Homo sapiens: one gene and its partners. The protein of the gene in region 3 purifies or fractionates together with the protein of the main gene of each other region. This does not show direct contact. Each region holds a gene or a part of one and is shown on either strand. Other genes may lie near its edges.

What was found.
Region 1: the proteins of USP18 (region 3) and SAMHD1 purify together in Homo sapiens (affinity purification with western blotting; one study listed by BioGRID). This does not show direct contact.
Region 2: the proteins of USP18 (region 3) and RSF1 purify together in Homo sapiens (affinity purification with mass spectrometry, with the first as the bait; one study listed by BioGRID). This does not show direct contact.
Region 4: the proteins of USP18 (region 3) and KDM3B purify together in Homo sapiens (affinity purification with mass spectrometry; one large-scale study listed by BioGRID and IntAct). This does not show direct contact.
Region 5: the proteins of USP18 (region 3) and CBFB purify together in Homo sapiens (affinity purification with mass spectrometry, with the first as the bait; one study listed by BioGRID). This does not show direct contact.
Region 6: the proteins of USP18 (region 3) and ZEB1 purify together in Homo sapiens (affinity purification with western blotting; one study listed by BioGRID). This does not show direct contact.

What each region holds. Positions count from the first base shown.
Region 1 is NC_000020.11:36,891,696-36,896,596, forward strand, and holds part of SAMHD1 (deoxynucleoside triphosphate triphosphohydrolase SAMHD1), read right to left. Parts: intron 2,541-4,901; exon of another isoform or gene 2,235-2,540; coding exon of another isoform or gene 2,211-2,234; exon of another isoform or gene 1,372-2,210; coding exon 1,237-1,371; 3' UTR 1-1,236.
Region 2 is NC_000011.10:77,669,704-77,674,604, reverse strand, and holds part of RSF1 (remodeling and spacing factor 1), read left to right. Parts: intron 1-2,374; coding exon 2,375-2,563; intron 2,564-4,901. UniProt on the Homo sapiens protein: Regulatory subunit of the ATP-dependent RSF-1 and RSF-5 ISWI chromatin-remodeling complexes, which form ordered nucleosome arrays on chromatin and facilitate access to DNA during DNA-templated processes such as DNA replication, transcription, and repair.
Region 3 is NC_000022.11:18,147,964-18,153,546, reverse strand, and holds the start of USP18 (ubl carboxyl-terminal hydrolase 18), read right to left. Parts: upstream 3,378-5,583; 5' UTR 3,325-3,377; intron 1-3,324. UniProt on the Homo sapiens protein: Interferon-induced ISG15-specific protease that plays a crucial role for maintaining a proper balance of ISG15-conjugated proteins in cells. Regulates protein ISGylation by efficiently cleaving ISG15 conjugates linked via isopeptide bonds.
Region 4 is NC_000005.10:138,421,222-138,426,122, reverse strand, and holds part of KDM3B (lysine-specific demethylase 3B), read right to left. Parts: intron 2,049-4,901; coding exon 1,782-2,048; intron 713-1,781; coding exon 541-712; intron 1-540. UniProt on the Homo sapiens protein: Histone demethylase that specifically demethylates 'Lys-9' of histone H3, thereby playing a central role in histone code. Demethylation of Lys residue generates formaldehyde and succinate. May have tumor suppressor activity.
Region 5 is NC_000016.10:67,062,978-67,067,878, reverse strand, and holds part of CBFB (core-binding factor subunit beta), read right to left. Parts: intron 1,198-4,901; coding exon 1,081-1,197; intron 1-1,080. UniProt on the Homo sapiens protein: Forms the heterodimeric complex core-binding factor (CBF) with RUNX family proteins (RUNX1, RUNX2, and RUNX3).
Region 6 is NC_000010.11:31,520,759-31,525,659, forward strand, and holds part of ZEB1 (zinc finger E-box-binding homeobox 1), read left to right. Parts: coding exon 1-1,178; intron 1,179-3,174; coding exon 3,175-3,355; intron 3,356-4,901. UniProt on the Homo sapiens protein: Acts as a transcriptional repressor. Inhibits interleukin-2 (IL-2) gene expression. Enhances or represses the promoter activity of the ATP1A1 gene depending on the quantity of cDNA and on the cell type.

The DNA of each region.
Region 1 (4,901 bases), on a different chromosome or scaffold from region 3:
TTTTTTTTTGGAGATGGAGTCTCACTCTGTCACCCAGGCTGGAGTGCAATGGCGTGATCTAGGCTCACTGCAACCTCCGCCTCCCAGGTTCGAGCAATCCTCCTGCCTCAGCCTCCCAAGTAGCTGGGACTACAGGCACACGCCGCCACGCCTGGCTAGTGTTTGCTCTTAAATACACAAAATGCACTGAACCAGCAAAAACAAAGTCCCAGGTCTGAGGAGCTCTGAGGATGATGCCTGTGATGGCCTCTGGCCAGCTCTCCAGGATACTGAGAGAGCAGGTCAGGGGAGGCCTTCTCCAGGCTGGGCAGTGGGAAGGCCCTCTGGACCGGGGGAGTGAGTATTCAGGGGACAAAGGCACTACCCGGGTCTGGAGCCGCCACGGAGCCAGGGCACAGCCTAGTTTGGGGGATTCCTCTGTCACTGGGGTAGGATCTCCCAACAAGAGGCGGCTTTATGTTCCACTCACGAAGAGGCCAGAGCTCTCAGATCTTCCCCAAAACCTAATCAGGCCTCTCACCAGCGTGTTGGAGGCCACTCCTGGCCATCATCTCCAACTCTTTACCCCAACCTGGCACCTTGTAGGGGGCTAGAAGGGTGAGGGGAGGTGTCTTTCACTTATGCTTAGGTCACTCTTAGAGGACTATCCTCAAACTTGAGGTGACAGGGAACTCTTCACGGGGGCAGGATTTGATGTTTTGTTTTTAGCCATGTTTGTCAATGACAATGTCAATTTCTAGTTCCAATTTGTACCCTTGTCTCATTTCTACATTAAAAACAAAAAACAATCATCTGTCATAAAAGTTCAGAGTAAGCTGGGTGTGGTGGCACATGACTTTAGTCCCAGCTACTTGGGGGGCTGAGGCAGGAGGGTCGCTTGAGCCCAGGAAAGTTCGAGTCCAAGCTGGGCAACAGAGCAAAACCTTGTCTCTTAAAAAAGAAAAAAAATAGAGTTCAGAATAGATAAAAGAGTTGTTATTCTAAGAAAATAGACTACTGAAGGAGAAAGGCTTTAATAATATTAAAAATAGGCAAGGTAATGCTTTTCATAGTATAGTAAGATTTGCCTAATACCATCTTATTTCTTTGATTAAAAGTTACTTAGCTTCAGCATGCGTGTACATTCAAAATACAAAATTAAAGCATGAGTTGTCATTAATTTGCAGAATTCTATGATTGAAGCCTCTAAATGAATTGTGCAGGAGAGGGAGTTTGTAAACAACTGACTACAGACATTCACATTGGGTCATCTTTAAAAAGCTGGACTCTGCTTTTGGATGCTTCTCGGAGGCGAGTTGGATTTTGGACTGAAGTACTGTCGTTCCATTCCTTTTTTTGAGGTGTTATGAGTGGGGCTATAACATCGCCATCCTATTAGGAAGAGAGAGAAAAACAGGCAATAGAGAAAAGCCAGTTTCCATCATCTTATTTCTGAGTGAAAGTCTCAAGTGCGCACATCCTCATCTTGCATATAGATTGCTTCTAGCTGTCCTCAATCCAGGGAAACTCCAAATTACATATGCCCTGTGCTTGGGGCAAATTAGAAACACTACAGTCTTACGCAGGAAGAGCCTTCATGAAAACAGCCACTGGCCTCTGCAGAGATGACTGGGAGCAGCATACCACTGCCCACCTCTATGGCCTCCTTCACACACCTTCACGGAGCACAAACTCTGTCCTGTTTTCCCAGGAGAAAGACGGGATGCACTGAACCCCTAGCTTCTCTCTCGCCTGGTCCCCTCTGCAATAAAAGGCCCAGGTCTACAAGATGGCAAAGAAGGGGAGGAAGAACAGTATGTACCTGCAGAATTTAAATTTTTCTCTGCATCAAAGCTCTAACGTTGGTCCCATCAGCATAGGCTCCAGCCAAAGAAGCTCCTCCACCCAAAATAAGGGAGAGATCCAAAGGGAGGCGATACAATGACGTGAAACCATAGAGGTAAGAAGCAAGGCCTCCTAATACTTGACTCTATGCTAAACTGTTCTGAACTTGTGGGTAGATCTTCTTTGGTTACAAGATGATGCACGATCTTGGAGAGCCTCTGTTGTACCAGGAATACAATGCTGGTGGGAGGATTCGTGCTCCTCATCTGCTTATTTGCTCTCAGATCCATTCTTCACTCTTCCTCTCCCTACTCTGTCTCACAGGAGCTACTCCGGTAAATTACATTTCTCAGCTCCCATGCCTGTTGGTTTCCAGTTAGATTTGGTCAGTGGGAGGCTCTGGTGGGAGACTGGAGGTGAGAAGAGGGCAGAGAAGTCAGGTTTTTTCTCTCCCTACCTCCTCTGGCACGAGCGGCAGTGGCAGTGACTATTCTGTGGTTCTAGCTTTTGCAGGTGGCCCCAGCTCCTGGACTCCCACCTGCTCCCTTGGTCTCTCCTATCCTAGAGGTGGTAGCAGCTTCCTGCTGTTGAATCACTGTCCTCTATGCTCATTTAGCTCTGCCAAAACTTTTGTATCTCACCCCCATGTTAAATTTTTTCTGTTGAACTACACTGGATCTGACTTGATAGAACTATTAAAAATAGTTTTTAAAAAATGTGTTATTATTTTTTTTTGAGATGGAATTTTGCTCTGTCACCCATGCTGGAGTGCAGTGGCACAATTTTAGCTCACTGCAACCTCCACCTCCAGGGTTCAAGCGATTCTCCCGCCTCAGCCTCCCAAGTAGCTGGGATTATAGGTGTGCATCACCATGGCTAATTTTTGTATTTTTAGTAGAGATGGGGTTTCACTATGTTGGCCAGGATGGTCTCGAACTCCTGACCTCAGTAAAGGCAATCATTTAGGCCAGGCGTGGTGGTTCATGCCTGTAATCCCAACACTTTGGGAGGCCAAAGCAGGTGGATCACTTGAGGTCGGGAGTTCAAGACCAGCCTGGGCAACATGGTGAGACCCCGTCTTTACTAAAAATACAAAAATTAGCCGGGCATGGTGGCACGTGCCTGTAGTCCCAGCTACTCAGGAGGCGGAGGCAGGAGAATCACTTCAACCCGGGAGGTGGAGGTTGCAGTGAGCTGAAACTGTGCCACTGCACTCCAGCCTGGGCAACAGAGCAAGACTCTGTCTCAAAAAAAAGTCATCCTATTGTCATGATACTTGTACTTAAAGGCCTATCTCAAAATCAACAGTATTTATTTGTCTTTAAACTCATCTCTATTTCTACCCAGCTTGCTTTCTTTCTTTCTTTTTTTGAGACAGCATCTTGCTCTATCAACCAGGCTGGAGTGTAGTGGTGTGATCATAGCTCATTGCAGCCTCAGACTCCTAGGCTCAAGCAATCCTCCCACCTCAACCTCCCAAAGTGCTAGGATTACAGATATGAGCCACCATGCCTAGCATATAGCCAACTTTTTAATTTCTACTCATTCTACTTTCAGTTCTAGTGAATTTTATAAATGTAAACAAATACGTCACTTTCCTGCTTAAAACCCTTCAGTGTCAATGCTCCCTACTGCTCTTGGCTGACAGGACTTTGATAAAGCCCCAGACACCTCCACACTCTATGCTCCTTCCTGAAATGCATCATGTTCTTTCTCATCTTCCGACCTAACCCTGTGGTGTCTATGCCTCAACCCCTCCCCTACCACCACCTCCTGCTGCCAGCCCTTAACCCAGACAACTCCTCACTCAACCTTCAGGTCTCAGTTTATAAGCCCTTCTTTAAATAAGCTTTTCCTGACCAACCAAGACCAGCTAAATCCTCCTTGTTTTTCCTCTTCTAAGACTGTGTACTCACCCTATACCCAAAGTACTTACCATGCTCCTATAATTATTAACTTATGGAGAAAAATTAATAATAATTATTATTATCCCCAACTAGATTATTATCCCCAACCTGAATGGGATCCATGGGTTATTAGGAACTGTCTATCTTAGGTACTGTTCCAGGTACCTAACACAGGGCATGGCAAAATACTCACTCCGTGAGTGAATGTACCAAATTTATAGTAGTTATCACGACACAGCCAAACTTTAATAGCCTCTCTTGACTCTCTATTTCCAGACTCTCCAAGTTCCAGTCTATCTGCAGCTAGAGTTTTCAGTGATTTAGTTTCAGTGATTTAGTTTCACAGTACCTAGGACAGACATACAGTTGGCCCTCTGCATCCATGGGCAGATTCAACCAACTGTAGATAGAAAATATGAAGGGGGAAAAATGGATGGCTGTGTCTATACTAAGCATGTACAGAATTTCTTCTTGTCATGATTCCCTAAACAATACAGTATTAACAACTATTTACATAGATTTACATTGTAGTAGGTTTTATAAGTAATCTAGAGATATTTAAAGTATAAAGGAGGATATGTATAGGTCATATGCAAACACTATACCATTTTATATAAGGGACTTGAGCATCTGTGGATTTTTCTTTTCTTTTCTTTTCTTTTTGAGACAGAGTCTCGCTCTGTCACCCAGGCTGGAGTGCAGTCGCCGGCTAATTTTTTGTATTTTTAGTAGAGACGGGGTTTCACAGTATTAGCCAGGATAGTCTTGATCTCCTGACCTCGTGATCCGCCCACCTCGGCCTCCCAAAAGTGCTGGGATTACAGGCATGAGCCACCGCGCCCAGCCTATCCATGGATTTTTCTATCTGTGGGGTCTGTGGGGGTCCTGGAACTAGTTCCCCACAGACACCAAGGGACAATTCTACTCTTATTCCCACGGGTGTCACTCTAGTTGGAGATGACACACATTCAGGTAGATCATACAGTGCATGGTAATTCTTGAATATGCTCAATGATTCCCTCCCCACTGTACAGAGAAAAAAATCTCTTAGCCAATTATCCAAGGTTCTCAATAATCTAGTCCACTCTTCCCATTTAACCTCTCCACACTTAACAGTAAGAACTTTCTGGCTGGGCATGGTGGCTCACACCTGTAATCCCAGCACTTTGG
Region 2 (4,901 bases), on a different chromosome or scaffold from region 3:
ATTGATACGTTAACTTCATATCAGATGCCTAGTAGGATTGTGATGACTCCTTGGTTGTCAAATGTTTCCACTCCTAAACCTTCATCTTCATAGGGTTTCTTGGAAATCATTCTCAATAAACTGTGAACATTTCCCTCAGATGCCCAGCTGTTGGAGAGAGAAGAATACAAGTTAACTCTCATTTAGACCACAGTCAGTGTTGAGTAGTTTTTACAGATTAACAGTAGTTGATGTTGTTATAGAGTATGCTTATCCCTATTAAGTGAGTAAATAGAGGCTCAACCGCTACAAGAAATGAATGCTTTATGTAATTGGCAAATTGATAGGTGTCATCTTATTAGAGAAGAACCATAGATATGAGTATCAGACTCTGGCCATCCTTGTGGGTTTTTTTTGGTTTTATTTATCTTTTTTCCTAAACCATCTAAATAAGTGATGATAATATCATGCCCCTTTATCAGTGATTATTTCCTAAGGACAAGGACATTTTCTTACATCACCACAATGCAATTACCAAATTCAGATATTTTAACATTGATATAATGCTATTACCTAATTAACAGTACACATTCAAATTTTTAACAAGTATCTCCATATTATTCTTTATATCTTTTTTTTCTTTTCCTAACCCAGGATCCATTCCAGGGCTATGCGTTTATTCACATCTCTTTAGTCTCCATTAATCTGGAATAATCCTCAAATTTTGTCTCATCTTGATATTTTTAAAGAGTACATACTAGTTGTTTTGTAGATGTTTCCCAGTTTTGATTTCTTTTGTTTCCTTGTGATAAGATTCAGATTATGCATTTATAGTGGGAATAGCACAGAGAATGTTGCATCTTCTGAGTCTCTTTATTATTTTTCCTTATAATTAATAAGTAATTTGTGGGAATTTGAGACTATTTAAATATCCTTTTCCTTATATTTCACCTGCTAGTTTTAGTTCCTGTGGATAATTCTAACTCTGTCATTTCTGTTATATTTATTTATTGTTGTTCTGTAAGGAAGAACATTTCCCTTCTCCTCCATATGTTTGTTTATTTATGACAGTGTAAACTCGTGGATTCTTATTCTGATCAGTGGATATACTACATTCCCATCACTATTTAGGCTCCATTTGTCCCAAATTTGGCCAATGAGAACCACTTCAACCTATTGGCTAGCTATTTTGAAATGTTTGAAATCCACAAAAGAATAACAAGCTTGAATGTCGTACTTCGGTGGAATTTAACATTCTGAAAAACAGCTGTGACATAATGCCACAGCCTCACTCTGGCTTATTGATCAGAGATGACAGGAACAATGCTATTTAGCAGTGCTTTGCAAGTTTAACTAGGTCTGTGTGCTTTATTTAGCAGATTTGTATTCTTTATGGAGAAGAGTCAAAAATATATCTTGAGTTCTGTATTTATGTGGAACAGATTCATGAGTTTTCTTTGGTTAGAGGGCATAACCTCTGCAATACATTATGACTATAGTGACAGGTAGAACAGCATATTATCAGGAGGCGGATTTGTGGTAGCCGTCTACCAAGAAGAGCAGTCATGGCAGCTGTGTACCTGACCAGGTAGCTGTAGGTCGACTGCAGTAAGGACTATTTCTAAAAAAGTATAAAACATTTAGGCTGGGTGTGGTGGCTCACACCTGTAATCCCAGCACTTTGGGAGGCCGAGGCAGGCGGATCACTTGAGGCCAGGAATTCAAGACCAGCCTGGCCAACATGGCGAAACCCCATCTCTACTAAAAATACAAAAATTAGCCAGATGTGGTGGCGGGTACCTGTAGTCCCAGCTACTCGGAAGGCTGAGGCAGGGGAATTGCTTGAACCCGGGAAGTGGAGTTTGCAGTGAGCCAAGATCATGCCACTGCACTCCAGCCTGGGCGACATAGTGAGACTCTGTCTCAAAAACAAACAAACTAAAAAGGATAAAACATTTTCTAATCTTGAGGATTCACCGCTAAGAGTATATATTGTGAGGTTTGGCATTAAAAACCTGCACAGATTGAGTCATTTTTTTTTTTTTTAAGGGAGACTTAAAGGCCAGGCATGTGGTAATCTCAACACTTTGGTAGGTAGCCAGGAGTGGTAGTGCATATGCCTGTGATCCTAGCTTTAGCTACTGGGGCAGCTGAGGCCAAAGGATCTCTTGAGCCCAGGAGGTTGAGGCTGTAGTGAGTCATGTTCATGCCACTGCACTCCAGCCTGTGTGATAGTGAGATACTCTCTCAAATAAAATGAGACTCATAAAAGTTACTGTTCACTTAAAAATATTTATGACTGAACTCTGCTTGGTAGCTTTTCATTTTTATAACCTAAGCTACATTTCTAAATAGACTTAAATTTTGTACTTTGTTCTTCCTTTTTTTAAAATAGAAAGTGACTTCAGTGATGATTTTAGTGATGATTTTGTAGAAACTCGGCGAAGGCGGTCAAGGAGAAATCAGAAAAGACAAATTAACTACAAAGAAGACTCAGAAAGTGACGGTTCCCAGAAGAGTTTGCGACGTGGTAAAGAAATAAGGCGAGTACACAAGCGAAGACTTTCCAGCTCAGAGAGTGAAGGTAAGGCATAGGTCTCCTATATATAGAAGTTTGGACAGGGCAAAATAGACATTATAAAGTGAACTCAGGATTGTGATTCTGTACCATTCTTTGAAACTCATATAACCAGGCCAGGCATGGTGGCTCACGCCTGTAATCCCGGCAGTTTGGGAGGCCAGGGCATGCAGATCACTTGAGGCCAGGAGTTCAAGACCAGCCTGTCCAACATGGTGAGACCTTGTCTCTACTAAAAATAAAAAAATTAGCCTGTGTGGTGATACGCGCCTGTAATCTTAGCTACTCAGGAGGTTGAGGCAGGAGAATTGCTTGAACCTGGGAGGCGGAGATTGCAGTGAGCCAAGGTTGTGCCACTGCACTCCACCCTGGGTGACAGAGCAAGACTGTGTCTCAAAAAAAAAAAAAAAAAATCCATATAACCAGTAGTATCTTTGAGATAAAACCTATAATCTTGTGCCTACCATAGTTTAAATAAAAGATACTCGATAAGAGGCTAATTTTTAAGATCTCCATTGTAATTTAAATTTTCATTGAAACTAGAAAAGTCTCAGAAAATTGTGATCTGATCAAGATTATTCTACTTCTTTTTCTTACTCCCTTATTCATGGCCCTCATTTTGAAATAACCTCTTATGTCCTTAATAGCTAAAAGGTTTCAAATAAAAGTGCCTACTGTCTCTTTCACCTTGACTATGATTTCAGTTGGAAACCGAAATCATTATTTCCTAATAGCTATAACTGTGCCCCCTACCAGTAGTACAAGACAAGCTCTAAAATATGAATTTCTTACATCCATTTAGTCTTTTTTGTTTTACTTAAATTATATATATATAGTGTATATATATATACACACATATATACATATAAATATATATATATATATATATATATATATATATATATATATTTTTTTTTTTTTTTTTTTTTTTTTTTTTTTTTGGTGACAGAGTCTTACTCTGTCACCCAGGCTGGAGTGCAGTGGTGTGATCTTGGCTCACTGCAACCTCCGCCTCCCAAGTTCAAACGATTCTCCTGGCTCAGCCTCCCAATAGCTAGGATTTTAGGCATGTGCCACCAAGCCTGGCTAATTTTTGTATTTTTAGTAGAGATGGGGTTTCACCATGTTGGCCAAGCTAGTCTCGAACTCCTGACCTCAGGTTATCCGCCCACCTTGGCCTCCCAAAGTGCTGGGATTACAGGCGTGAGCCACCGCGCCCGGCTTTATGGCCTGTTTTGAAGATTGTTTTGCTTTCATAGATTAAACATGAATTTAAGTTTGAGCCCAAGACAAAAGAGAAAGGGAAAAAAAATGTTTGGATGTGGGATGCTAAAGAAGGGAAGTGAACATCTTTTTCGAATGTGTACTTACCTTCATGTGTCACAGAAACAAACATAAATTGCATTAGTTAAGCCATTAAATATGAATATTTATTAAGCTAGGCCCTATTCCAAGCACTGGAATATAACAGCAAACAAAATAGCTCTTATGAAACTCTTATTTTAGTTGGGAAGAAGGTGACAATAAACAAGATAGATAAGTAGAATATATGATATATTAGAAATGAGTGCTTTGGAAAAAAATAAAGGAGAAAAGGGGGTTGGGAAAGTAGTTGAATTTCAGATAATATACTAAGGAAATCCTCACTAAGAAAACATTTGAGTGAAGACCTGAAAGAAATGTTGTGTGTGAGTCATGCACTTATCTAAAAGAAGAATGATACAGGCAGATGGAACAATAAATATGAAGGCCTTGAGGTATGTTTGTGCTTGTCATGTTCAGCAAACAGAAGGGAGTGCAGGGTTGTTGGAGCAGAATGAGTGAAGGCAGACATAATGAGATGAAGCAAAGAAGTCAGTGGGGGCCAGTCAGCAAACGAGAGCCCACCTGCTTACATAAATAAAAAAGCAAGGTTTTTGTTTTTGTTTTTGAGACAGGGTCTCACCCTGGCTGGCGTGCAGTGGCACAATCACAGCTCACCATAGCCTCAATCTGCTGTGCTCAAGCAGTCCACCTGCCTCAGCCTCCCAAGTGGCTAGAAGTGGCATAAGCCACCACACTGCTAATTTTTAAATTTATTTTATAGAGATGAGATCTTGCAGTGTTGCCCTGGCTGACCTTAAACTCCTGGCCTCAAGTGATCCCCCCTACCTTGGCCTCCCACAGTGTTAGGATTACAGGTGTAAGCCACTGCACCCTGCCCTGTAATACAGTTTTTACTGGAAGATTACCATACCAATTTGTTTACATATTGTCTGTTGCCTGCTTTCTCAAAAAGCTGAGTTGTTGTGACTGAGACTATAGGGCCTGCCTCTTACATAAAAAATGTGCTAACCTCTGATGA
Region 3 (5,583 bases):
AGACTGAGGCAGGAGAATCAGTTGAGCCCAGGAATTTGAGGCCACAGTGAGTTATGATCGTGCCACGGCACTCCAGCCTGGGCAACAGGGCAAGACCCTGTCTCCTTTTTTTTTTTTGAGATGGAATTTCACTCTTTTTACCCAGGCTGGAGTGCAGTGGTACAATCTCAGCTCACTGCAACCTCTGCCTCCCGAGTTCAAGCACTTCCCCTGCCTTAGTGTCCCAAATAGTTGGAACTACAGGCATGTGCCACCACGCATGGCTAATTTTTGTATTTTTAGTAGAGACGGGGTTTCACCATGTTGGCCAGGCTGGTCTTGAACTCCTGACCTCAGGTGATCCACCCATCTCGGCCTCCCAAAGTGCTGGGATTACAGGCATGAGCCACCGCGCCCAGCCTGGAATATATTCTTAAATTCATGTTGGATGGCTCAGATAACAACAACCTCTTTTTCTTAGTAAATATTGACTTTCAATAGTTATAAACAGTTGTTCTTCTTACAAGGCCCAGCCTAGGAGGACTCAACTGAAATGATGACAGCAGACAATTCCATCAGCAAGAAAGAGGATTTTGAGCTCATCATTGAGGGAAAGCTGATGAAAGAGAGCAGAGAGGTTCCAGGCTGCATTTTCCAAGATGTTGTCCTCTTCTCCGCCAAGACCTCCCAGATACTTCAGTAGGATATAGCAGTAAAACCTCATGGAGCAGATCATTTGAGCAGGCTCGGTCCCAAAGGGAAACAAAATACAGCAGCCTTTCAGGGTAGATCACACTGGGGAGACAGGGAGGCGGGGCAGCAAGGAAAGGAAAGTGAAGCTTAAAAGGTCTAAGGAGGATGGGGAGGGCAAGGCGAGCAGAGAGACCGCAGCTGAAGTTAGCAGGGGCAATAAGCATCCACCAGAGAAAACAGCCTGGGCGGATTCCAAGGAAGGGGATTTTCAAACTCAACTGCTGACTCAAAAAAAGACCCCCAGGCCAGGCGCGGGGTCTTTGTTTGAGACTCTGTCTCAAACAAAACAAAACAAAAATCCCAAATACTAAACTAACTTAGCTCCCACCCTACCTGAATTTTTTTTTTTTTTTTTGGTTCACGTTCTCTCATGATCTTCCCGAAATGTTATCCTTAAGCTTCGGGGAGAGGTGAGCAACGGAAGGAACTGGCCCAGGCCCACCACTAAAGAAGCCCCAGGACCAATCGGGGTCCTCAGAGAAGCCCCAGAAGAGCCAGGAACAAGCTGCAGAAAACCTGGGGAGGGTGGGGCCTCCACCCAATACTCCACTCACAACTGGACTCTCTGCCAGGAAAGCCAACTCCAACATTTAGATGCCCTAAAAGGAACAAAATTAACCTGCCAGGAACATGATTCAAGCAGCCTCGGTGTCTTCCGACCCACCCCATCATGGCAACCACAATTGTAGACCGCAGTCTCGATGACGTGTTCACATTATTTTGCATTTCTTTTTTCTTTTTTTATTTTTATTTTTATTTTTGAGACGGAGTCTCCCTCTGTCGCCCAGGCTGGAGTGCAGTGGCCGGATCTTGGCTCACTGCAAGCTCCGCCTCCCAGGTTCACGCCATTCTCCTGCCTCAGCCTCCCGAGTAGTTGGGACTACAGGCGCCTGCCGCCACGCCCAGCTAATATTTTTTATTTTTAGTAGATGGGTTTGCACCGTGTTAGCTAGGATGGTCTTGATCTCCTGACCTCGTGATCCACCTGCCTCGGCCTCCCAAATTGCTGGGATTACAGGCGTGAGCCACCGCGCCCGGCCTATTTTGCATTTCTTGAGTAATCGTAATATGCGGGTTAGAACACACGGATTACAACACTTTGGATGAAAAACCACATAATAGGGAAATTTTGGGACTACTCTCTCTCAAAAAAAAAAACAGCTCGTGGAAAAACTAGGACTTACCTTCTTTGAAACTATGTTTATGTTAAGCATTTTCCCCTTTGTAAGCTCATCATTGTGTAAAAGTGTCAGAACTGTGCAACACATTTTTTAACAGTCCAAAAGCAAGTTCTTTGATAAATCAATATGAAGCCGTGCACCTGTGTTACTCTCCCTCCCGTTTTGTTCCTGCGAACACATCGGTAACCTGCATTCACTCTCCATCCAACTCTGTTCAATACCAGAAAGAAACTTCAGATGAAATGCTTTTCAGTATTTGCCTTGTTTTCTGGAACAACTTTAAAGTACAAATTATACCTAAATAAGTACAAATTAAAGCCTCTGCTTTAATTTTCAAACACTTTGAACCCAGATTTTCAGGGGTCTCAAAATGGAGTTTTGTGTTTAAAAGTCTAAATTTAGCTTTCTTCCAAGGAAAAGGGTGTGAAGAAGAGAGGTTAAGACTAAAATACTCTGATTTGCAGAGTTTGACAACATCCTTCCAATTTCTCAATATGAATGCCCACTGACCCAGCCATTCCACTTCTAGGAATTTTCCACCGATATATTTGTATGAATGTATACATAAAATTATATTCATTGCCGTATCTGTGCCAGTAAAAACTGGAAACAACCTAAATCTCCATGCATTGTTTAAACAATGTACTTCCCATACCATGTATCAGGTTTTTTTGTTTGTTTGTTTGAGACAGTTTCGCTCTGTCGCCCAGGCTGGAGTGCAACGGTGCGATCTCGGCTCACCGCAACCTCCGCTCCCGGGTTCAAGCGATTCTCCTGCCTCAGCCTCCCGAGTAGCTGGGATTACAGGCATGCGCCACCACGCCAGGCTAATTTTGTATTTTTAGTAGAGACGGGGTTTCTCCATGTCTGTAACTCCTGACCTCAGGTGATCCTCCCTCCTCGATCTCCCAAAGTGCTGGGATTACAGGCGTGAGCCACCGTACCCGGCCGAATCAGTTTTTTGTTTTATTTTTAATGCCATTAACACATCTATATGTCCTGCCATGAAAAGATGTCCATAATATACTCAGTGGACAAAGCAAGTTCGAAATGATTTTAAAGACTTGTACATAGAAACATTTCTGATAAGGTACAAACAAAAATGATACTGAGTGGAAGACTGCGAGACACATTTGTCTGCATTGTTTGAATTTTTTTACAAGCTTACAACACTTCTGCAATTTCTTTTTTTGTTTTAATTAAACACAAAGTCATGTCAAAAGTCCAAATAACTATATTAGCTTAGAAAAAAATTCACTGGCCCAAAATATATGCACGTAGTAAATACAGATCACTATCATAATTTGCAGAGCACAATTATTACTTAATTCCTTAATTATCTGACTGGCATAGGAGCAGAGTTGGATGTCTGTGCTAGAAAGAAAACTTCCAAAATGAGCCCCGAACTTGCCTCAAGCGCCATGCAAGCGTCCAGCCTCCGCTGCTGAGTTCCACGTCGGGACTGAGCCGGGGACCGAGCTGGGACCGAAGTTCCGCTCCGGGCCCGCCTTGGTCTGGCCCCGCGCTCGTGGCACCCCGCCCAGCTTTCGTTTTCCACTGAATGGAAAGCGAAACTTACAGCGGCCTCCGCGCCGGGAGCTGGGCGCCAGCGTGCGGGGAAACCCTGCCGGCCCGAGCTTCCCGCGGCTGCCGTTGCAGCCGCGCACCTGCTCCAGACTTCCAGCCCTCGCTTTTTTTTTTTTTTTTTTTTTTTGAGACGGAGTCTCATTCTGTCGTCCAGGCTGGAGTGCGGTTGCGCTGTCTCGGTTCACTGCAAACTCCGCCTCCTGGGTTCAAGCGATTCTCCTGCCTCAGGCTCCGGAGTAGCTGGGATTACAGGCATGCGCCACCACTCCTGGCTAATTTTTGTATTTTAGTAGCGATGGGGTTCCGCCATGCTGGCCAGGCTGGTCTCAGGTGATCCGCCCGCCTCCTAAAGTGCTGGGATTACAGGTGTGGGCCACCGCGCCCGACCTACAGGCGCCTTTTTATTTGCGATTTTAAGGTCCTTGCAATTAGCCTACGTGTTAGAGTCATTTGGCGTTTGGTAGTATCCATGGCAGCATTTTTTCTTTCTTAATGCTATTGTATTTCTTGGATCGGGTGTCTTCACATCACCGGCCTGTGGCTTGGATGCGGCACATGGTGTAATTAGGAGCTCCCCTGTGGGCATGCAGATACAGATATTTCTCCACTTAAGAAGGGGTCAGGGGGCGCGGTGGCTCACACCTGTAATCCCAGCACTTTGGGATGCTGAGGCAGGCGGATCACCTGAGGTCAGGAGTTCGAGACCAGCCTGACCAACATAGTGAAACCCCATCTCTACTAAAAGTACAAAAATTAGCTCGGCGTGGTGGCGCTTAATCCCAGCTACTTAAGAGGCTGAGGCAGGAGAATAACTTGAACCCAAGAAGCGGAGGTTGCAGTGAGCAGAGATCGACAAGAGCAAGACTCCGTCTAAAAAAAAAAAAAAAAAATGGGGTCAAGTCCCAGTGAACCCATCATGAAGTCGAAACATCGTAAGTGAAACCACGGTAAGTGATGGACCATCTGTGTATATATAAGGTTAAGAGATCTGTAACATGCACACCGGAAAGGCTTATTACCTCTTTAGAGATGTATTTCTTGTATGTAGACTCATGGGGGTAGGGGCAGAAGGGTTATCTGCTAGGGGCCTCAAACTCCAGCCGCTGGAATTTGCGCAGGAAAGCAGGGTACAATTCCCCCAAAGCGATCATTCTTTCTGAAAGCCGTCCCCGCAGCAACAGACAAATAGCCTCCAAAAACCCAAAGCTGCCAGAACCTCACTGAAGCGTTGGTAGGGTCTGCAGTAAGGTACAAAATACCATGGCATGAAGATGTATAAACGTGTCCATAATAGGGTGGATGTGTGTTAGAAGCATGAGCACAGATATACACATACAGGCTATCCACACGTCCATCGTCAGCCCAGACTCCGCTTACATTGCTGCTGGAACGGAGGCAGTGTCGCCCACAGTGCAGCATGTTCTCCCTGGAAGGCTGGTGGACTTTGCGCAGTATGGTGTTTACACAGGTACACGGTGGTGGGCGCAGGGTCCGTCCTCATTATATTTGCTGACCAATCAGTTATATAACCAGCTTCATACATCTGGTAAGTCTTGTCCACAAACAGGAACCTCAAAAACTCAAGTGAGGGCAATGAGGAGAGGAGGTTGCAAAATTTGATAAAATATGCTAAATACAGCAAGTCAGTAGAAGGCTAAGGAGCAAGCTGCAGTTGCTTGCAGCAACTATCAGCAGAAAACTATTAATAGTCAATCCAATGATTCTATCTGAATCTTGGTAGGTCGGTGGAGCAAAGTAATTGGTGTTGCTGCCCCAGTGCAGAATGGACAAGGGTGAACCTTGGGTTGGAGGCTGGACTATATAATGTAAGGATCCATTACACTTCTATGGGGCTCTTCCTTCCGTCCTTCATGGTACCCTCCTGAACAATTCCGTGCTAAGGCCATCAGGTGTGTCAAGCAAAGTGGGCGTTTGTGTAGTATGTTCCACAGTGGCCCAAGCAGGGTGCTGGACTGGAGCAGGTTGAGGAGGGTGGCAGCACAGTGGGGCTGCCCAGCACAATGTCAGACACAAATGGGTGCTGGTGCAGCCCGGCCCAGGGTCACAGCCCAAGCAATTTGAA
Region 4 (4,901 bases), on a different chromosome or scaffold from region 3:
TAAGTCCAGGCATGCTCTGGGAGTCATGTGATTGCCATGTAAGCTACACAGTTGGCACCAGGGCAGAATGTTCCCCCACCAAGTGGGTATAATTTGGATTTATTTATTTATTTATTTTTGAGACAGTCTCACTCCATCACCGAGGCTGGAGAGCAGTGGTGCCATCTTGGCTCACTGCAACCTCTGCCTCCTGGGTTCAAGTGACTGTCCTGCCTCAGCCTCCTGAGTAGCTGGGATTATAGGCACACACCACCATACCCAGCTAATTTTTGTATTTTTAGTAGAGGTGGGGTTTCGCTAAGTTGGCCAGGCTGGTCTTGAACTCCTGACCCCAAGTGATCCACACATCAGCCTCCAAAAAGACTGAAATTACAGGAGCGAGCAACCACGCCCGGCTGTCTGTTTTTAATTTTTTATTCATTTATTTTTTCAAGTCCCATTATGCCCCAGAATATAATTTATTATTCAAGGGCAGAGCTGGGCGTATAGATGCTTATTTTCCAGTCTGCTATCACTGAACTAGATATGAAAGCTACTTACTGCATATGATCTCGAAACCATCCCAGAAATCCCGAACTTTCACATCGGAAATTATAGCACAGTTCCTGCAGTTCACCAAGTCTACATCCTGGTCTCCAAATTCCTGGCTAAAGGCTTCTGGCTTCCAGAGCTCAGACTTGAGCTTTTTATGTACCCCCGAAACCAGCACTGGCTGTGGAAACAAAAATATCCCAATCAGAGCAATCTAGGAAAAACTTCCAGCTCTAGGGCTGAGACAGAATAGGAGGGTTTCCTGAGGAGGGCCTCCTCTTCTCCAGGAAGCTCTACTGTTCTTTCCTAGTTGTATAATCCATGGATTTCCACATGTCAACTAAAGTGAAAGGAAATGCTTCTACTCCATTGTTATGCTTCATTCTCACCCTGGGGAAATCACTTCTGTTGCCCTAATACCTACCATTGTTTTAAGGTGAAAGGACAAAAATCTGACAAGTCCAACTTTGAGAACACTTCCTCATATTGAAAATGACAATGCCATGAGCTCCCCTTCCTCAAGCACCTGCTAAAGTTTTTAAACTAGGGAGTGTTATCACACTATCAAAAAACTTGTGTGGCCTTAAAACATTTGCCTAGAAAAGTACTACCTACCTCCAACCCCTTCTCTGCCCCATCTTAAAATCACACTTAAGGATTTTTCTCTAAAGATATCAATGCCAGATCACCACCTAACAGAAATTTCAACTGCCTTTTTAAGAACACAGAACTATACAGCTTAGAAACAAGAGGATGCAAAGTGTGTTTTTAGTAATCTCCTTGCTTTTATTTATTTATTATTTATTTATTTTTGAGGTGGAATCTTGCTCTGTAGCCCAGGCTGGAATGTAGTGGTATGATCTTGGCTCACCGCACCCTCTGCTTCCCGGGTAAAGTGATTCTCCTGCCTCACCCTCTCAAGCAGCTGGGATTACAGGCACCCACCACCATGCCCAGCTAATTTTTTTTGTATTTTTAGTAGAGACAGGATTTCACCATGTTGGCCAAACTCCTGACCTCAGATGATGCGCCTGCCTTGGCCTCCCAAAGTGCTGAGATTACAGGCGTGAGCTATAGTGCCTGGCCATCTCCTTGCTTTTAAAAATCCAAGACAACTCGAAGTAGCAAGGCTATTACAATAACCTCACTATGTCTAAATCTCCCTGGCAAAAAGAGAGACCTGGAATTGTCCAGGTATCTGTGGTAGGCAGGCAGAGAATTGGCCCTTGGAACGACTTATTCTTGCTTACCTGACCTTGCTTCCAACACTCCCGGAAGATCTTCCAATTGTTTTTGTTGCTGGGGTCATGGAGACACAGAAGCCTCCCATCACAAAGCCAGGAGTGAGAAGTATGGGGATCTAGCACATTTAACCCCATCACCATCTCCTTCACTTCCTTCTGGGTATCAGTCAAGTTGCAGGCCCGCTTTGAAGCATCTGAGGTTTTCTTATTTTCTACCACTGAGGCAATGATGTGGTCAAGAAAGTTGGGTAGGCTGGCCTTGCTCTTCACTCCCTGCCAGACACAAATCCACCAGGTAAGCTTGACTGAGGCACCATGAGAACGGCATTCAAAAAACTGTCTCACAATTGTATTCACAAGGAGTTCTGACCTGTCTGATTAAATTCTACAAAAATTATTAAAATGTCTTTTACAACTGGAAGGGGGATAATAAGTCAACATCTTAAATTCTTTTATCCTTCATATTTTACCTTAACATTTAGGAAAGAAAAGTATAGAAAGATCCCTTTTGCCTCGAGAGATCTGAGACCTAAGAAATACCTTTGGCATCAGCCATTCAGTATACAAAGCACACATGCATGTAGACTGTAGGGATCATCAAATGCTGTAACTGAGTGTAAAAAGGTCACTCAGTTTGAGGGTTCTAAATTTTTCCTAACCAGCATGCCCAAGGGATACAATACTTCAATTAAGTAACTGAAGTGACTTATCAAGGCAATGGTTTTCTACCAGGGAGTACCTCAATGAAGGGTGTAGCAGAGTGTCCAAGAGGAAGTACATTCTGAAAGCAGTCTCCTACTCTCCAATTTTTTCCTCACTACCATCCCACTGAGAATCACTCACCTGTTTCAGCTGATGGGAAAGCTCAGGCCCAGAGATGAAAGTGACATACCTAAGGTCACAGAACTGAAGGTAGGGAAGCTTTTATAAACTGGATAATCCTATGCTTACAGTATTACTAATCCCTATCTCTATAAAGTATGTATAATTATGTAACATCATGGGAGAATTAGAAAAAGAACTGGCAGTATGATGAACAAGTATACATAAAACGGTACCCAAAGTAATTGTTTTGTTTGCTTTTTAAAATTTACTTATCCAGGCTGGGCACGGTGGCTCATGCCTGTTAATCCCAGCACTTTGGGAGGCCAAGGCAGGTGGATTACCTGAGGTCAGGAGTTCGAGACCAGCCTGGCCAACATGGTGGCCAACCCTGTCTCTACTAAAAATACAAAAATTATCCCAGTGTGGTGGCACGTGCCTGTAGTCCCAGCTACTTGCTCGGGAGGCTAAGGCAGGAGATTTGCTTGAACCTGGGAAGTGGAGGCTGCAGTGAGCTGAGATCGTGCCACTGCACTCCAGCTTGGGCAACAGAGTGAGACTGTCTCAAAAAAAAAAGTTACTTATCCAAAAGAGAAACAAATAACCCAAATTGTATAGAGGGCTCAGTCACCCACAGTTCATCACGTTTCAGCCATTAGTCATAAAACCCAAGAAGAAATGTATTTATGTATTCGCTTGAAATGATTTGCAGGACATATAAACTAAAAATCAGAATAGCAAGGTGTAGAACATTTAGGGGAAAAACATACATATGATAATATCTCGAGAAACACTGGAGACTTCTAGAAAGGGAAACAGGTGGTTGGGAGGCAAGGGTGCAAAGGAAACTTTTCAGTCGAAACCTTTTTTATTTTATTTATTTTTTTGAGATGGATCTCCCTCTGTCACCCAGGCTGGAGTGCGGTGGTGCGATCTTGGCTCACTGCAACTTCTGCCTCCCAGGTTCAGGCGATTCTCCTGCCTCAACCTCCCGAGTAGCTGGGATTATAAGCATGTGCCATCATGCCTGGCTAATTTTTGTAGTTTTTTAGAAAGAGTCAGGATTTTGCTACGTTGGTCAGGTTAGTCTCGAACTCCTGACCTCAAGTGATCTGTCCGCCTCAGCCTCCCAAAGTGCTGGGATTACAGGTGTGAGCCACTGTGCCCAGCCTCTTTTCTATCTTTTAGATATTGTACCTTATGAATTCATTCATTCAATAAATGCTTACTAAACATGACTGGATCAAACACCATGGCACTAGGGATATATTATAGAACAGTCAAAAATGCCTTTAGGAGAGGCAAGAAACAGAAAATCAAACATGTAATAGGTCAGATGGTAATGAGTGCTGTGAAAAAAACAAAGCAGGGAAAATCGGTATGTGCAGAACTGACAGTGTGATGGAATTTTAAAAAGGGTGATGTATGAAGAAAGGGTTACTGAAGGTTTAGGTGAGGGAGCTGATGATGAAGCAAGTGAGGTAGTTACATGGGAAAGAAATTCTAGGTGGAGGAAATAACAAGTGCAAAGGCCCTGAAGAGGGAGCATGCCAGGCCATGTTCAAAGAACAGCAAGAAGGTGGGTGTGGCTGGAACGGAGTGAACAGAACAGAGAGTGGTAGTTGAAGACAGGGAGGTGAGAGCAAGATGAACAGATAGGGCTATGGCCTCATAGTCCAGGTGCGTGACTCTACTCATCTGTAAGCACTACAAGGACTCTGCTCATCTTACGAGAGAAAAAGGAAGCCCTTGAAGGATTTCAGGCAGAGGTTAAGATATGATCTGACTTATATTTTATTATTTTTCTCCTTTTCTTTTATTTTTCTTTATTTCTTAATAAAAAGCCTCCCATGGGATGACATATTTTAAAAGAACCTCTCTAGCTACTGTGTTGAAAATACACTGTAGACTGTAAAGGGCAGAAACAAGGGGACCTGTAAGGAATTTATTGCAAAAACTTAGGCAAGATGTTGGCTCAGAACAGAGGAAGCAACAGAGCTGATGAAAAATGAGTGGATTCTGAATATAGTTTGAAGATCAAATTTGAAAGGATTTGCTAACAAATTAGATATGAAAGGTAAGACAGGCGAGTCCCAAATGATTCTAAGATTTCTGGTGCAAGCAATCACAAGGGCAGAGATGCCACCAACCAGTAGGGGAAAACTAAGGAGAAGCAAGCTTATGGTCAGAAGATCAGGAGTTCAGGCTTAGGCGCATTAAAGGTTTGAGACATCTATTAGATATCCAAGAGAATACAATACAAATGTACTGTCCAGGTTAAAAAAAAATTAATGCCTGCTATTA
Region 5 (4,901 bases), on a different chromosome or scaffold from region 3:
CTTTCCCTGAATCTCCCTGATAAATTTCTGGCTGGTCTGCCATTTTGTTGCTTTCTGCAACACTAGCTTTGCCAGACTGTTAGCAAATGAGACCTCTATCATTTTAAACAATATGCCTGGGCATGGATTTTTTTTTTCCCAAGCCCTGCTTTTAATAAAGTCAGCTCTCTTTGACAGGACAACAGATCTACCAGTGCTCATGGCTTACCCTGCCCGCCCAGGGAAGAACCTGAGGGACCACAGAGCTGGGGAATGGGAGCAGCTCCTGACTAAAATGACACAGACTGTCACTGATCTTACTGAGATTCAATAGCTTCCATGAGGCCTTAAATGGGTGTTGTTCGTTGTTGTTGTTGTTTTTGAGACAGAGTTTTGTTCTGTTGCCCAGCCTGGAGTGCAGTAGCGCAATCTCGGCTCACCGCAATCTCTGCCTCCTGGGTTCGAGCGATTCTCGTGCCTCAACTTCCCAAGTAGCTGGGATTACAGGTGTGCACCACCATGCCTGGCTAATTTTTATATTTTTAGCAGAGATGGGGTTTCATCATGATGGCCAGGCTGGTCTCGAAATCCTGACCTCAAGTCTCAGGTGATCCGTCTGCCTCAGCCTCCCAAAGTGCTGGGATTACAGGTGTGAGCCACCACGTCCAGCTTTTTTTTTTTTTTTTTAAACAATTTTTGTCAAGTTTTATCATTGCTTTCTTGGGAGAGGACTTGTTGAGCTCCTCACTCAAGCATTCCAAAAGCACGGCTCCTACATTTTATTTTGAACAGTTTTTTCTTTTTTCCCTATTCATAGTGTTCTAAAGATCAAGAATAAATATTTTAAAGAGCTACTTGCTGGACTTTGAAGCACCCACTGAGCAGATACGAATAACCCATGAAATTTAGAACTGCTGAAGAAAAAACTTTCCCAAAATCAGGATCAGAATTTGAGTATCAACATTTTCAGGATTCCTCAATATTGCTTCAACACAATACTTTCTATACTTACTCTTAAAAATTGGGTAAAATAGGTCCCCAGGCAAAGGCAAGATTAGGGACTAAAGGGACCATGCTCAATAAAGCCTGATGTTACCCTACCTGGGCTCGCTCCTCATCAAACTCCAGACAGCCCATACCATCCAGTCTTTGGAGATCAATCCAGCCTTTCCAGATAACACAGACTCCATTCAGAATCATGGGAGCCTTCAAATATACCTAAGACACAGAAAAGGATGAAAATAATTGAAAACCATCAGACACATGAAAATAAAAAGATTAAACTTACTTATATAAACTCTGTAGAAAAGATGAATAAAATTATGATTGACTGATTGATTGAGATGGAGTTTCGCTGTGCTCCCCAGGCTGGAATGCAGTGGCACAATCTCAGCTCACTGCAACCTCTGCCTCCCGGGTTCAAGCAATTCTCCCACCTCGGACTCCCCAGTAGCTGGGATTACAGGCGCTCACCATCATGCCTGGCTAATTTTTTTTTTTTTTTTTGTATTTTTAGTAGAGATGGGGTTTCACCATGTTGCCCAGGCTGGTGCTGAACTCCTGAGCTCAGGCAATCTGCCAGCCTTTGCCTCCAAAAGTGCTAGGATTACAGGCGTGAGCTACCATGCCCGGCCAGACACTTTGATTTTTGAATGTTGGGTAGAAAGATGGAAAACAATTGGAAGCCACCACCCTCTGAAGAGAGCATGCACTGCTTCCCTCAACGTGGGTTCCTGGAGCATGCAGGATCAGGCTGTTGATACTCCCCTCAGTTTTATAAGCTATCTCACAGATTCCTGATAATTAATCTTTTTTTCTTTTTATTTTTTTGTCTTGTTAGCCAGAGTTGATTTCTACTGCTTTTAACCAAAGAACTTTAACTGGTATAATATTTACTATTATATCACATTAAGTAGTATGTGGTTATCTTTAGGTGTCCATAAATAATTCGGAACAAAACACTGCTATCCTTTATATGGGACTTATGAAATTTAATTCAAGCTATTTCACAGTTTTTTATTTATTTATTTTTTACTTTTCCCAATAGGCAACAGTAAGGTGAATCAGTCTTTTAAATATAGTAGAAAAGTTTTAAGGTCACAGGGTTTGACTACATGTATCAATTATTTATCTAGAAACTGGTAAGTTAACCCAAAATCTACTTATTTCAACTCCCTGTTGAAATTCTTAAATACTATAACAAAATCAACTAAGACAAAAAGGCTAGGCACCAGTGGCTAATGCCTGTTATCCCAGTACTTTGGGAGGCCAAGGTGTGAGGATCATTTGAGGCCAGGAGTTCAAGACCTGCCTGGGCAACACAGAGAGACCTCACCTCTAAAAAGTAAAAAAATAAAAATAAAAAAATGAATAAACTTAACCAAGCATCTTGAATTCTTAATAAATGGAAATGTGTTTATTCCTTACACATAATACCTTTAGATGACAAAATTAGCCAGGCTTCATACTGTATCACATCCAACAAGTATATCTACTTACACATTAGAGAAATATCGAAAATAAGTATCCTAGGATATGGTAACATCTCAAGTCACTGACAAATTAAATATGTTCACTATACTTTATGCACTGCAGTTTAAAAAAGTACCAATAAATTTTAAAAAGATCTTCAAGATTCCTGAAACCAAAAGTATCTCTCATCTGGTGAACCTTCAGCTTCATGAGAAAATTCCTACATCCTGGCTAGGCGCGGTGGCTGATGCCTGTAATCCCGGCACTTTGGGAGGCCAAGTTGGGCGGATCACTTGAAGTCAGGAGTTTCAGACCAGCCTGGCCAACATGGCAAAACCCCATCTCTACTGAACATAACAAAAATTAGCCAGGCATGGTAGCGCACAGCTATAATCCCAGCTACTCGGGAGGCTGAGGCAAGAGAATCACTTGAACTCGGGAGGCAGAGATTGCAGTGAGCCGAGATAGTGCCACTGCACTCCAGCCTGGGTGACAGAGTGAGACTTGTCTCAAACAAAAAAAAGAGAGAGAAAAAAAAGAAAACTTCTGTTTTACACTTTTATTAACTTTTCTTCTGAAACAACAACAATAAAAAACAACAACAAAAAACAAAAACCCATTTCTGCACCATTCTTTTTCAAGTAAATAAATAACTCTAGAATAAAAATTGCTTTAGGTATACATCATACCCAAATTTAGATCATTTTTGATCACCAAATTAATTCTCATATTGGCTCAAAATACAATTGTTCCCAAGAGTAACTATCCACCCAGAAAGGACGGTGTTAATTCTATCATCCTGAGGTGAATATTTTATTGTGATAGAGATAAACAATATAAGAGAAATTTATTACAGTTTCTACAATCTTCCCACTCCTAATACCACACTAACCTAATAGTTACTTTTAAAAACATAATTTTAGGGCTGGGCACGGTGGCTCACGCTTGTAATCCCAGCACTTTGGGAGGCTGAGGCGGGTGGATCACAAGATCAGAAGTTCGAGACCAGCCTGGACAACAAAGTGAAACCCCGTCTCTACTAAAAATACAAAAATTAGCTGGGCATGGTGGCGGGTGCCTGTAATCCCAGGTACTTGGGAGGCTGAGACAGGAGAATCGCTTGAACCCAGGAGGCAGAGGTTGCAGTAAACTGAGATCGTGCCACTGCACTCCAGCCTGGGTGACAAAGCTAGACTCTGTCTCAAAAACAAATAAACAAACAAAACACATAATTTTAGGTCTTCTCTACCTTGTTTAACATGAGTTTCTGAATAAACCAGCATAGGTTAATATTTACTGCCTTGAACAAGGTATTTTTAATGCAGAGGAAGTGGGAATTCTTCAGTGAGTTTTCAAACCTGCAGATTATCAAATATATATTTATTAACGAGGCTTTTCATTTACCTGCACCAAATGTATTTCCTTTGGGAAATCCAGTGCTTTGTGAGCTAAAATCTGGCATTATTTATTACCTGTTTAATTATATAAAAATCTGTAAAACAGTTTCTCATTTTGAGGAAAAAGCTGGAAGCATCTTTTTTTTGAAACTCATTTCAGTAGTCTCTTCAGACTCTTGGATTCTTTTTGTTTTTAGAGATGTTTAATAACAATAACTGACTGCCAATAATTATAAACATGATAAAAAAATTACCTCTGAGATACCTTTAAAATAGTACTTATAGAATTTATACCCTCTGGCTGGCCGCAGCAGCTCATGCCTGTAATCCTAGCCCCTTAGGAGGCCAAGGCAGGAGGTCATGAGTTCAAGATCAGCTGGGACAACATGATGAAACCCTGTCTCTACAAGAAATAACAAAAATTAACTGGGCGTGGGTGTGTGTGCCTGTAGTCTCAGCTCCTTGGGAGGCTGATGCAGGATAATCGCTTGAACCTGGGAGGCAGAGGTTGCAGTGAGCTGAGGTCGCACCACTGCACTCTAGCCTGGTAGACTGAGCAAGACTCTGTCTCAAAAAAATAAAAAATAAATAAAAATTTATGCTTTCCTGGTACATATTTGTGTCATTCCCCTTCACTACTGAACCCAATCATTTCTGCTAAGGGCTGCAATAAACCACAATGAACCAATTTCTACTTATATTGGAAAATAACCAAAATACAAAAGGTTCCATTTCTCCTCCTATTTGGACCAAGGGAAATAGTCTTTAGTTACAACTGAAACCGTTTAACCACACATTTCCTTCTGTTCTGATAAGTGCTCATTCCCTTCCACACTGTGCATTTAAAACTCCACCAATGTGCATCAAATCAAACAAGTGACTATGCCGACCTCTGCTCAACCCATCACAAAACCTAAAAACAATACCCCTTATTTCATCTCAGTGAATCTTGATTTACCATCTCTCATGAAGATTTCCATCCAGAAATCTTCATTAATCTTAAACCCTGTTAGAAGGCTAACAGGTGGACGGAGTAGCATGCACTGGGGATTG
Region 6 (4,901 bases), on a different chromosome or scaffold from region 3:
TCAACTACAGTCTTGAGCAGCCTAGCCAACTTCAAGTTGTTCCTCAAAATTTAAAAAAAGAAAATCCAGTCGCTACAAACAGTTGTAAAAGTGAAAAGTTACCAGAAGATCTTACTGTTAAGTCTGAGAAGGACAAAAGCTTTGAAGGGGGGGTGAATGATAGCACTTGTCTTCTGTGTGATGATTGTCCAGGAGATATTAATGCACTTCCAGAATTAAAGCACTATGACCTAAAGCAGCCTACTCAGCCTCCTCCACTCCCTGCAGCAGAAGCTGAGAAGCCTGAGTCCTCTGTTTCATCAGCTACTGGAGATGGCAATTTGTCTCCTAGTCAGCCACCTTTAAAGAACCTCTTGTCTCTCCTAAAAGCATATTATGCTTTGAATGCACAACCAAGTGCAGAAGAGCTCTCAAAAATTGCTGATTCAGTAAACCTACCACTGGATGTAGTAAAAAAGTGGTTTGAAAAGATGCAAGCTGGACAGATTTCAGTGCAGTCTTCTGAACCATCTTCTCCTGAACCAGGCAAAGTAAATATCCCTGCCAAGAACAATGATCAGCCTCAATCTGCAAATGCAAATGAACCCCAGGACAGCACAGTAAATCTACAAAGTCCTTTGAAGATGACTAACTCCCCAGTTTTACCAGTGGGATCAACCACCAATGGTTCCAGAAGTAGTACACCATCCCCATCACCTCTAAACCTTTCCTCATCCAGAAATACACAGGGTTACTTGTACACAGCTGAGGGTGCACAAGAAGAGCCACAAGTAGAACCTCTTGATCTTTCACTACCAAAGCAACAGGGAGAATTATTAGAAAGGTCAACTATCACTAGTGTTTACCAGAACAGTGTTTATTCTGTCCAGGAAGAACCCTTGAACTTGTCTTGCGCAAAAAAGGAGCCACAAAAGGACAGTTGTGTTACAGACTCAGAACCAGTTGTAAATGTAATCCCACCAAGTGCCAACCCCATAAATATCGCTATACCTACAGTCACTGCCCAGTTACCCACAATCGTGGCCATTGCTGACCAGAACAGTGTTCCATGCTTAAGAGCGCTAGCTGCCAATAAGCAAACGATTCTGATTCCCCAGGTGGCATACACCTACTCAACTACGGTCAGCCCTGCAGTCCAAGAACCACCCTTGAAAGTGATCCAGCCAAATGGAAATCAGGTAAAAAATAACCTCCATCCTGAACCTGGCTAGTAATATGCTATTTGACTAATTTCAATTAACTTTGTCTAATAAATATCAGTCCCGTAGAGCCAACTAGATTATTACAAACTGTCATTTTTAAAAGGATCAATGTTTGCTTTAACTTTTCTGGCATGATGTCTTCAGTTGGTTGTTTGCTAATCCAGGGTATTGTTACCAGCTTAAAGTTTGAAATGCTATTCTACTGAAAGATGATTTTTAAGTCCCAGCTAAAAACCTGTTTGAAGTTAGAAATCAAAAAACAAAATTGAAATACTCGCTAATTGGGTTTCTGTTTTTATAGCTAAATTCCTAAAATTAGTAATAGTTTCTGCCTTGATTATGGTCATTAATTAATGAAAATATGTTCCCATTCACAGGTTCATACCAGGCAAACTTATCTATCACTTTTATATACTAATACATCTGTTTATAAAAGGTTTTAATTAAATAAACAGGAATGAAGTATACAAAGAACGCATCTTGTGAATTTACTGATCATTTTATGAACTGTGCATAAACAGTGTTCAGTCATAATGTATATGAGGAAGTGTGGCTGTGAACCTAAAAATACATATGCATTTTCCTCCTTAACTATCACAGTGTTTACCACAACAGTGTTTATTCTGTCCAGGAAGAACCCTTGAACTGGTCTTACCCCAAAATCCACAATAGTTTTGGATAGAGCTATTGTATGCCTCATTGTCCAGACTTTTTCCATGTCACTGATGTTGATGTTTTCCCATTTTTTCCATCAATTTCTGATGGAATCAAATGAATACTAGAGACAAATTTGATATTTTATGCAAATATTTTCTATAAGTATAATAATTTCAATATCCTGCTCAAACTTGTATTTGCTGCTTTTGTTTTCCCTTAAATATTGCTATTGATTGGGTTTCCTGTAATTGTGATAACTCTTGAAAAAAAGTTCTTACGTGATCATTGAATTCCTCTAAATTTTTAGTGTACAGAACACTTTGCATGCCTTTGAATAGAAAAAGAGCCATCCTTAGCATTTCATAGACTCACGTGTCACGTGACTAGATCAAGTAGCAGTGAAAGTAGAATCAAGTTACTTCAGCACCAGGGCCACTCACAAATGACAGGGACAAATGGCTGCACCTCTCTTGCCTCATAGAGCCATAAGAAATGTTGTGAAAAACCTTCAACTTTTAGAAAATGTGTGGGTTTGAGGCAATGGCGTGGAACACTCTAGATAAGGTAGGAAGATCTTAGGGGACCCAGTTCCACAACAGGCTCCCTGCAGGGTTATTTGGCTTACATAAGAACGTGCTGCCCAAAATTATCTCCATGAGACTGCCTGGAGTTTCTAAAGGTTCATTTTGATTAGCAATTATTTCTGTTAAAAAGATAGACCCTCCTGCATTGTTTTTCCATCTTGCTCCTTAGACAAGTGGTAGAGCACACCTCTCTCTTTTCAAGGAGACCGTGGAGGTTAAAGAACCCTGAAGTTCTGGAGGATACAATTGAAAGACCAGGTTTTAAAAATAGAATGTTAGCTTTTGCTTAGTGAAACCCAGAATGAGAAAAATGAAGGCAAAAGATGCAGTTAGTAATGAGCGATTAATTAGCAAACTAATAAGTTAAAACCTTCTGCAAATTTCTCGTAAAGTAATGATTCACATGAAACTAGGTAAACTCTGTTACTATATATTTTACATGCTTTCTTTTCGGTGTCCTTGCTTTCTTTCCAGTACCAGTTGAGTATATGTCTTTGCTATGGTTTTGACTGTGTTATCCCCAACCTCACTCTTGTCTTTGTCATCTCCACCTGTGATCTGGCCCCACCCTTGGGGCACATGTGCAGTGAAGATCAGTGTGCTTGCTTTGGTCAAGTCCTTGAAAGTATAAAAGTATAAGTTAAAGTAGTTCTTTATCTCATGCTTTTATGTATATCTCTTGTTTATCTTTTAATGTTAAATTACATTTTCTCACACCTTTCTCCCTCTAGGATGAAAGACAAGATACTAGCTCAGAAGGAGTATCAAATGTAGAGGATCAGAATGACTCTGATTCTACACCGCCCAAAAAGAAAATGCGGAAGACAGAAAATGGAATGTATGCTTGTGATTTGTGTGACAAGATATTCCAAAAGAGTAGTTCATTATTGAGACATAAATATGAACACACAGGTATGTCAGTGAACACAAACATAAAGTGTCCATGATATGATATACTGGAAGATGCAAAATTAAAAACTAAAGTTTTAGAATTTTCTTTCTTTTTTTTTTTTTTTATTTTGTTTTGAGACAAGGTCTGGCTCTAGTCACCCAGGCTGGAGTGCAGTGGCACGCAATCTCAATCTCGGCTCACTGCAACCTCCGCCTCCCGGGCTCAAGCCATCCTTTCATCTCAGCCTCCTGAGTAGCTGGGACTATAGGCACATACCACCACACCTGGCCAATTTTGATATAGACGGGTTTTGCCATGTTGCCCAGGCTGGTCTTGAACTAATGAGCTCGAGCCATCTACCCACCTCGGCCTCCCAAAGTGCTGGTATTACAGGCATGAGCCACCACGCTTGACCCAGAATTAATTTTCTTATTTTTTACTTATCTGATCTGGCCATTTTCACCTGTTTGCCCACTTCTACCTAGTACTTAAGGTCTGTGCCTTTCTTTTGGTTTTTTGCTTCATCTGTTTTTTTGTTTTTTTCATGACTTATTTCCTTTAAGCTGACACAGCATTTATTCTGTCCGCATTCATTTAATGCAAGCTTATGCTATATTAATAAAAACATAGTACATAGTACCCATTAATAAAAAATATGAGACCAGTGGGCTAAAGTCATAGGGAGACAGGATCTGGCTTCATAAAAGAAAAAGCTGCTTCATAAGCATGCGGCAAGCTGTCCTGGCAAGTCAAGATCTTTTGTTTTAAGTAAGAAGTTCTGCCTAAGAGGTTGGACTAGAAGATTCTAAGATCCTGTAATTCTGAGATCCTGTAATTCTGCCACAAAATATGCCTCCTTAGGTTGACTCAGGGATGGCAAACTATAGCTCACAGGCCAAATGTGAGCATACGCATGTTTTTCTATGAGGTAAGAATGGTAGTTTTTGATTTTGTTTTTACATTTTTAAATGATTGGAAAAGATGAAAAGAATATTTATGACTGATGAAAATTATGTGAAAGTCAAATATCAGCATCCGTAAATAAAATTAGTTGGAAGACAGCATCGCCTATTCATTTACATTTTGTCTATGTCAGCTTTCATGCTGTTCTACAATGGCAGGATTGAGAAGCTACTACAGAGACCATTTGGCCTGCAAAGCCTTTAATACTCACTACCCTTTACAGAAAATAGTTGCCAACTCCTGGCCTATTTCATTCCTTCCATCAGTGAAGTACTGATAAATTTTAACACCTGGTTCTCTGAAGGGTGGGGAAGCCCTGATTTGTAGTGTTTGCAGCTTTTTGTGGCATAAATACTCCCATCATGGTGGATTTCGAGCTTGAATGTGATGTCAGCTTGCAGAATTCCTGAAAATTTAGCAGTAGACTCTCTCCAGCCAGTACAAACTGGCTCCAGCACACTCCTGTGTCTCTCTCTAACATGGGTTGCTGTAGAAGGGGCTGGGTTTATCCTGAGCTCTTTAATCCCCTACCTGCTCTTCCCTGCCCCCACTACCAGCCATTATGACTACAGTATCCATATTTATCTTTCATATTCTTAACTG